2 separate regions of the Homo sapiens genome follow, and region 1 is reported to be linked to region 2. The links are microRNA targets in miRTarBase. Many come from high-throughput screens and were not tested one by one. Region 2 holds a microRNA gene; the other region holds the end of a gene's coding sequence.
What was found. The annotated mature microRNA hsa-miR-532-3p reads CCUCCCACACCCAAGGCUUGCA and lies in region 2 at 1,610-1,631, shown strand. An mRNA with a match to its seed (bases 2 to 7 or 8) in the 3' UTR can be bound and repressed. Matches are read on the target gene's strand: a 7mer-m8 pairs with bases 2 to 8, a 7mer-A1 pairs with bases 2 to 7 and ends in A, and an 8mer does both.

Region 1: miRTarBase lists AIFM2 as a target of hsa-miR-532-3p. Seed matches in the 3' UTR shown: 7mer-A1 at 3,087-3,093 and 7mer-A1 at 1,857-1,863.

The regions. Positions count from the first base shown.
Region 1 is chr10:70,110,930-70,114,929 of GRCh38, forward strand. It overlaps AIFM2 (AIF family member 2), which reads right to left. Exons shown (of 9, transcript NM_032797.6): 8 at 3,991-4,000; 9 at 1,342-3,400. The coding sequence ends at 3,249. MACROH2A2 (macroH2A.2 histone) reads left to right here. Exons shown (of 9, transcript NM_018649.3): 9 at 589-1,353. The coding sequence ends at 754. Among named protein-coding and RNA genes, the nearest start is that of AIFM2, 20 kb to the right of the region's middle.
Region 2 is chrX:50,001,595-50,006,121 of GRCh38, forward strand. It overlaps MIR532 (microRNA 532), which reads left to right and starts at 1,554; the gene lies at 1,554-1,644. All of the region lies in intron 3 of CLCN5 (chloride voltage-gated channel 5), which reads left to right. MIR188 (microRNA 188) reads left to right here and starts at 1,909; the gene lies at 1,909-1,994.

The DNA of each region.
Region 1 (4,000 bases), not on the chromosome of region 2:
ATACAGGGCACTCTTCACTTGGCCAGCCCTGTGACCTTGACTAAAATCATTGTGCTTGGCAGGGCACGGTGGCTCACACCTGTAATCCCAGCACTTTGGGAGGCCGAGGCAGGCGGATCACCTGAGGTCAGGAGTTCAAGACCAGCCTAGCCAACATGGTGAAACCCCGTCTCTACTAAAAATACAAAAATTAGCCAGGCATGATGGTGCGCACTTGTAGTCCCAGCTGCTTGGGATGCTGAGGCAGGAGAATCGCTTGAACCCGGGAGGTGGAGGTTGCAGTGAGCTGAGATCGCGCCACTGCACTCCAGCCTGGGCAACAGAGAGAGACTCCATCCCAAAACAAATAAATTAATTTAATCAAATTAAATCATTGTGCCTCTCCGAGTCAGTGTGACACCTATAAAGTGGGGGCAACATGCCCCACCTGCCACCCCCAGGCTGTCCCTTTGGCTAGGGTCAAAGGAGATCATGCATGGACTAGCCCTGCACACAGCAAGGCCCCACCCAGTAAAAACAAAGGCACTTCATGCTCCCATGGGTCCCAGGGACCAAAATGACATCGGCTCTTCTTTTGCTTTGGCACAGAAACTGCTTTCCCAAACAGACTGCGGCCCAGGTGACCCTCAAAGCCATCTCAGCCCACTTTGATGACTCGAGCGCGTCCTCGCTGAAGAACGTGTACTTCCTGCTCTTCGACAGCGAGAGCATCGGCATCTACGTGCAGGAGATGGCCAAGCTCGACGCCAAGTAGCCGCCGCACTTTCCAGCAGGGATCGGAGGACGACCCGAGTCCCAAGAGTGGGGTTTTGCTTTTTAAAAGGAGAGAGGAGGGGTGATGGCAGGGGAGTGGAGGGTGGCCGGGCAGGTCCTGCCGGCGCAGGGAGCCCTCTGCCCTTCACACTCTCCTCCAAAAGAGCCTCCATCTGTAAGGAAGCAGGTCTCCGCGAGGGGTTTCTTTCCATGTGTTTTCCTCCTGTTGTTTTAGAACTTTTTTAAAAAAACAGACCTCGTTTTAGATTTATAGCATTGACTTTTACACACATTCACACAAGAAAAAAATCCTTTCAAAATTCTTAAATCTTCTGTTCCTCCTTTTTCCAAGGGAAGAGGGCAAAAAGTGGCCTGGGCTCTGTTGGTGTGCGTGTTCCGTGGCGGAGAGAAGAAAATGGGAAAGACATCTCACTGGTGCTTTTCTCTTTTGTTTTAGTGCCCCCCGCCCCCATCCCTATAATATCTGTAACTACTCCTAAAAAGGTTTTGATTCAGGCTTTTTTTTGGTTTCATTTTGTTTTTTTAAGAAAAAGAAAATGAAAGGAAAAAAATAAAAGATCCAGTGTCTTTCTTACAACATATTCTTTTATTGCAACATTTTCCTCAGTTTGGAAAACTGTGTCCCCACACGTAGGTCCTTCTAGAATATTGTAAGTCAATAGAAGAAGGCCTGTCGCTCACACACTGGGATTCCCACCTCGCTGGACCCCAGGTCAGATAGCACCAGGGCCTGTGTTTCTTAGGCCGAAGGTCCTGCCTCCAGGAAGGTGGGCTTCCCTTCGTGGTCCATAAAGAAAGACAGATACTTGGATGCAACCACCAGGGGAACAGCCATCCTCCAATAGAGGCACACGACTCACTTAGGCCTGGGCGACAGCCCCAACGGGATGGCCTGAGAACCCCAGAGAGGCTGGTGTCCCAAGGACTCTGCCCGAGTACCCAGAGGCCACCATCAAAAGGGAGCAGGGAGGGGCAGGGTGGGGAGGTGGGGCCTGAATTTCTTCAGATGAACTCATCAACCACTTCTGCTATGCAGATTTAACCCAGGCAGTCCAAGAGGGGCTCCTCTGGATTGGAAGATCTCTCCCAAATAGAGGAATCATTTATACACTGTAACATAGTCGGTGGCAGACATTAGTGCCCAGCTGGGCCTCCAGACAAGTGACCCTGGGGTTGGCCAGGAAACCAGAAGCACAAAACCACAAAGTCCCTCAAGGGCCCTCTCCCCATTCCCAGCATCAGCTGGAGTTTTGTCACTTACAAATCTGCCCATAAGTAACCTAGAAATATGCTGGGGGTCACCCGCAGAAACCCCCTCTGCTCGCTAATGGGTAAGCAGATGGCACCCCGCAAAGAGTCACATTATCTGCCCTTCCTTAAACACCTCCAATGGCTGGCAGGCCAGGCTGCAGTCTCAACCCCTGCTAGCCGTGTAAAAATGCACTCTGTCAGGGTGGGGTAACCAGAAGAGCACATTTATCTAGCTCTTTCTTCTTAAATGAAACCTGTGGTATGGAGTAGGATCTAAAAGTGGAAATGTGCTGGCCGCAGTGGCTCACGCCTGGAATCCCAGCACTTCGAGAGGCCAAGACGAATGGATCACCTGAGGTCAGGTGTTCGAGACCAGCCTGGCCAACACAGTGAAACCCCGTCTCTATTTAAAAAATACAAAAATTAGCCAGGCATGGTGGCACGTGCCTGTAGTCCCAGCTACTTGGGAGGCTAAGGCAAGAGAATCACGTGAACCCAGAAGGCGTAGGTTGCAGTGAGCTGAGATCGTGCCACTGCACTCCAGCCTGGGTGACAGGGCGAGACTGTCTCAAAAATAAATAAACAAACAAACAAATAAAGTGGAAATGTAGGAAGGCCATGAGGCTTAAGGAGCACAGGGATTATGCACCTGTTAGCAAATTGAAAACAAGGCTCCTGTGAAGTCCCTGGTTGTTGCAGAATGTATGGGCTCCCCGACCGTGTGATGGCAGAGATTTGGGGTGCTGGGCCTCTCTCCACCTCAGGTCCCTCCTTTGTTCTCAATGTGCAGCTCTCCTTCCTGCCCTCACAGACAGACACTGGCCACCAGAGCCCAGCAATCTGCCCTGCTCTGAGAGCTCTAAATGGCACGCGTCATGACCACAAGCACGTACACACACATGCACATCCCAGAGGAGGCAGGTGCAGAGGAAGGGCTGGCTGTGGCCTCCCCAGCACCATGCAGCCAGCACACATGAGCCGCTCACCCAGTACCACAGCAAGCACACCTTCCAAACCCAGAAAGTATCCTCTAAGGGGGGTATTTGTTTAATACCTCTCTCTCTCCCATTTTTGTTTTATACAAGTTGCATTTCTAGCCACCACATCATTGGCATCTTATTCCAGAAGAATAGCATTAGTTCTAGCACTTGCCAGGCGGGTGCCATGCGCCAAGCAGTCCGTACGCCCACCTGCTGCGGTAGTTCTCCCGCCTGGCCTCTCCATCAAGGTGGAGACTGCCTCATGGTTTTCCAGCTCGTAGAGACGAACAGGTCCCGGCTCTTGGTCAGCCGAACCATGAGCCGGCCCACATAGAAGCCACTGATTTGGCCCACACCGTCATTTCTCCCCATGGACAGGAGGAACGTCAGTGCACCTGCAAGCAGAGACACAGAAACAACCAGAACCTCACTGAACCGCCTGGGGCTGCACCTCCCAGAGTGCCGATCCTTCCCGAGGCCTTCAGACTCAGGGCCGGAAATGTGAAATCGCTTTAGGAAGGTGGGTGAGACCCTGATTTTTTTTTGTTTGTTTTTTTGAGACAGAGTTTTGCTCTTGTTGCCCAGGCTGGAGTGCAATGGTGTGATCTTGGCTCGCTGCAACCTCCACCTCCTGGGTTCAAGCCATTCTCCTGCCTCAACCTCCCGAGTAGCTGGGATTACAGGCATGCACCACCACACCTGGCTAATTTTGTATTTTTAGTAGAGACGGGGTTTCTCCATGTTGGTCAGGCTGGTCTCGAACTCCCGACCTCAGGTGATCTGCCCGCCTCGGCCTCCCAAAGTGCTGGGGTTACAGGTGTGAGCCACCGCGCCCAGCCTATTTTTAAAGAGCTCTAAGGGGATGTTTCCATCACCAGCTTGGAGAGTTTGTTCTAGTGGCCAGGTATGGGATAGCCCAAAAAGGCTTCCCCATGTTTAACCCCAAACTCTATTAAAACTGCAAAGCACATGGGGCCTCTCTTACCCGGCTTGTA
Region 2 (4,527 bases):
CCTAATGCTATCCCTCCCCCCTCCCCCCACCCCATGACAGGCCCCGATGTGTGATGTTCCCCTTCCTGTGTCCAAGTGTTCTCATTGTTCAATTCCCACCTATGAGTGAGAACATGTGGTGTTTGGTTTTCTGTCCTTGGATCCCTTCCTTACACCTTATACAAAAATTAATTCAAGATGGATTAAAGACTTAAATGTTAGTCCCATTTACTCTTGAAAACCCTCCATGTAAAACTGTAACCTGCAGCACTTAAATGACCCTGGTCAAGGTCCCCAGTGTCCTTCACATTTCCCAATTTACTGGGCAATGTTGTCATCTTACTTGACAGATCAACACACAGTTGATCACTCCCTCTGCCTTGAGACTCTACCTGCTTTCCAGGATTCCACACTCATGAGGTTGTCTTCTTACCTCACAAGCCTCTCTTTCTCAGTCTCTTGATGGTTTCTCCTCCTCTTCCTGAATTCTAAGTATTAAAGAGATATAGGGCTTAGTCTTCAGACTTCTTTTTTTTTTTTTAACTTCTCATTAGTCCTCAGCTGTTCTCATCTTGTCTTGCAACTCTAAGTACCATTTTATGTGGATGATTTCTGTGTTTGTATTTCCAGCCTGGACTTCTCTCCTGAATTCCAGATGCCTATGTCCAACTATGTACTGGACATCTGCCCCGAATGTCTAATAAGTATCTCAAAACTTTAACACATCCAAAGCTGAGGTCCTGGTTTTCCTCCCCCTCTCAAAAAGCCCTACTCCTCCCTCTGTGTTCTCCAACTCAGCAAACAGCATTTCCCAATTGCATATGCCAAGGATATGGAGAATTTTAATAAGCTAAAGGTTTTGGATTCATCTTTGACACTTTTTCCCCTCCATTCTCCAAATACAAACTGCTGTCAAATCTTGTTGGCTCTACTTTCAAAATACATGTCTAATCTGACCACACAGCCACTTCTCATACTTCTCACTTCCTCTATTATTTCCACACTAATCCAGCTTTTCCCTGGGCTGACAAGTGCAAGTTCTCTTGCGTCTGTCTGTCTGTCTGTCTCTCTGTCTCTGTCTCTGTCTCTGTCTCTCTCTCTCTCTCTCTGTGTGTGTGTGTGTGTGTGTGTGTGTGTGTGTGTGGTGTGTGTGTGGACACAAAGTGGTTGGTGGCTGAGAGCTTGAGCCTCCTTTTTTGAGTCCTCTTTCTAATGACCTGCATGCCAGATTCTAAGCTTTCTTACCATCTGTTCTCGTATGTGTGTTATTTCATCTGTAAAATAGGGATAATGATCACCTCATGGATATTTTATGAGAATAAATGAGCTATGTGTGAAAAGCACTTAAAACAGTGCTCTGCAAATGTAAATACTATACTGGTGTTAGGAATAAAAATAAAGGAAAAGAAAGAAGGAAGGAAAACAAATATGTTGTAGATAGTGAACATTTCTGAAGGTACATATGTGAATGTACACAAGCACACCTTCTCATTACAGCATGTCTGGGGCACAGTCATAGAAGTCCAAGGCATCTGGGATACGCATGCACACAGTATACAGGAGAGCAGACCTCCCGACTTGCTTTCTCTCCTCCATGCCTTGAGTGTAGGACCGTTGGCATCTTAATTACCCTCCCACACCCAAGGCTTGCAGAAGAGCGAGCCTTCTCTTCCCTCTCCAGTGCATAGGCATGAGCACATGGACAGGTACACCAAAGGGAGGTAGACCCTCTCTTACGTGCTCTGTATGTGGGGTACACTGTTAGCAGCCATCCCATCTGGATGACTGTCCTGCTTCCATGGCCACTGCTCCTAGTTTACCCATCAGCACTCCTGTGGCTATCTTGCTGCCCACTTGCACCCCCCAGGCCAGTGCCTCTTGCCTCCTAGAGCATACCCATATGTCGTGCCAAGAGAGCAAGCCCTTCCCTGCTCCCTCTCTCACATCCCTTGCATGGTGGAGGGTGAGCTTTCTGAAAACCCCTCCCACATGCAGGGTTTGCAGGATGGCGAGCCTCAGCTTTCCTTGCTCTCTTGTGCATGTGTATATACACATACGCACTCCTTCACCAAAAGAAAAACACACACCCATGTGGTGGGAAGGAGAATGACTCTCAGCCATGTCCTTTCTCCCATCTCAGTCTTACATGGATCCTGCAGGAGAGGGAGACTTCTCTTAGCTTTCTCTTGCACATGGTGCAGCCCCTCATACTCAGGGATAGGCACAGCCTAGAGAAGGAAGGGGGGTCTTTTGACCTGGTTCTGTCTTAGCGGCACCTAGAGGAGGAGAGAGAACCTTCTCAGGACTCCTGTACATGGGGCATGATGAAAAGGGAGTCTTCTAGCTAATTCTCACAAACCCAGTTTGTGAGGAAAATTGTGTCTATATCATAACCATATGCAAAGATGTAATATGCACACACATTTTGGGTTCAGAAAGTAGAATCCACTCACTGTGCCATGCCTTTCCATATGCACACTTGTTTGCTCAAGAGGGTGTGTGAAGATCTGTCTTCTTAGACACTCATGTAGATATGAGTCAGATTGTGAGTTTTCTCTGTTATCTCCCCAGACCCAGGATTTGCAGCCGATTCATTTGGTGAGCCACTCATTCATTCAGCAAATATTTATCGAGCAGCTACTGTGTGTTGGGTACTCCCCTATGCACCAGGGATACACCAGTGACCAAAAGACAAGAATCCCTGCCCTAGTGAGGGGAGGCAGGTAGTGAACAAAATAAGTAAGTAATAGATAGTGTGCCAATTGTTGATAAGTGCTCTGGAGAATAATAAGGCAGGAAAAGGGGACAAGGAGTGGGTGGGGGTAGTTACAGCATAGATGGTGGTGGAGAAGTTTCGATATCAAATAGGGTAGTCAGGAAAGGCCTACTGTGTTCTAGGAACAACAAAGAGCCATTGTGGCAGAAGCATAGGGCTGGGAAGTAGTAAGTTACAATGGAAAAAGGGAAAGCTGATAATTACTATGTATCTCTAAAATCTAAGGCCGCTTTTAAAAAAAAAATCATACCATTATCACACTTAAAAATAATTACCATCCAGGCACAGGGGCTCATGCCTGTAATCTCAGCACTTTGTGGGAGGCTAAGGTAGGCAGATCACCTGAGGTTAGGAATTCAAGACCAGCCTGGCCAACATGGTGAAACCCCGTCTCTACTAAAAATACAAAAATTAGTCAGGCCTGGTGGCAGGTGCCTGTAATCCCAGCTACTCGGGAGGCTGAGGCAGGAGAATCGCTTGAACCCGGGAGGCGGAGGTTGCAGTGAGCCAAGATCGTGCCACTGCGCTCCAGCCTGGGTGACAAGAGCGAGGCTTCATCTCAAAAAGAAAAAAAATTGCCAACAATTTTTTAATATCATCACATATCTGTTGTTCCCATTTCCACTTGTCTCAGAAATATCATAAATTAGGATCCAGATAAGGTCCATGCATTGCATTTGGTTGATATGTATCTTAAGTCCCTTTGAATTATATCTTTCCCTTCCATCTATATTTTTTCTTTCCTTATAATTTATTTGTTGGAAGAAAGTGGGCCATTCATCCTATACAGTTTTGCATAGTCTGGATTTTTGTGATCACATCCCTGTGATGTAGTTTACATGTTCCTTCTCCTTGTTTGTATTTCCTGTAAACTGATAGTTGCATCTGGAAGCCTGATCAAATTCAGGCTTAATTTTGAGGAAGGGGGAGCAGAACTACTTCCATTAAGAGGCACAAAATAACTGATGATCATCTTTCTGTGATGTTAGTTGCCACCGATGCTCAATTCTTAGAGCCGTTATTTCATTAGGGGTTGCAAAATGATGATATTCTAATCCCATTATTCTCTTGATTTATTAGCTGGAATACTTCTATAAAGAAAAACTTCCCTTCATCTGCTATTTGATCACCCAGTGTTGCCGTCTTTATAGGCAAGATAGGATAAATGTTTGGTTCTCTTTATTTATCAGTACTCAGAATAATGAGTTGGTTCACTAGCTTACTCTAAAGAGGATTTTTTAAAAAAACTATTATAATAAACTCATAGATTTAAATATATTTGGACTTTTAATCCATTGCAGTTCTTGCCTTCAGTGAAGCTCCAGTGCCCCATCTTTAGCCAGTAGGAGCTTCTTCAAATTGGTTCCTCAGTCCTTTTGACATGCCTCCGTAGTTATCTGATAGCTTCTCCGCTTTCAGAGATGAAAAAAATGTACAAAGCTCATCGCAGATACCTTCCCCAGGCCTGGAATCTGCCATGTCTTCAAGAAGCCCTGGTTTCTTTTAATCAGACATGATATTTAAAGACCATATTTGCCTCTGGATTGGTCATTGTATTTAGGCTTCTACAATGATCAGAACAGAAAAATGTTTTGTTTTTGTGTTTTCTTGTTTCTAGATAAATACATCATGATTCCATTATACTTCTGATTCAAAATCAGGATTACAGTTTTCTGTGTCTTTGCTTCACAAGTATGGTTCTGACTGTTGTATGGCAAATAGGAGGAGAAAGTGCAGAAACTGGGAGACCAGTTAGGAGGCCATTGAAATAA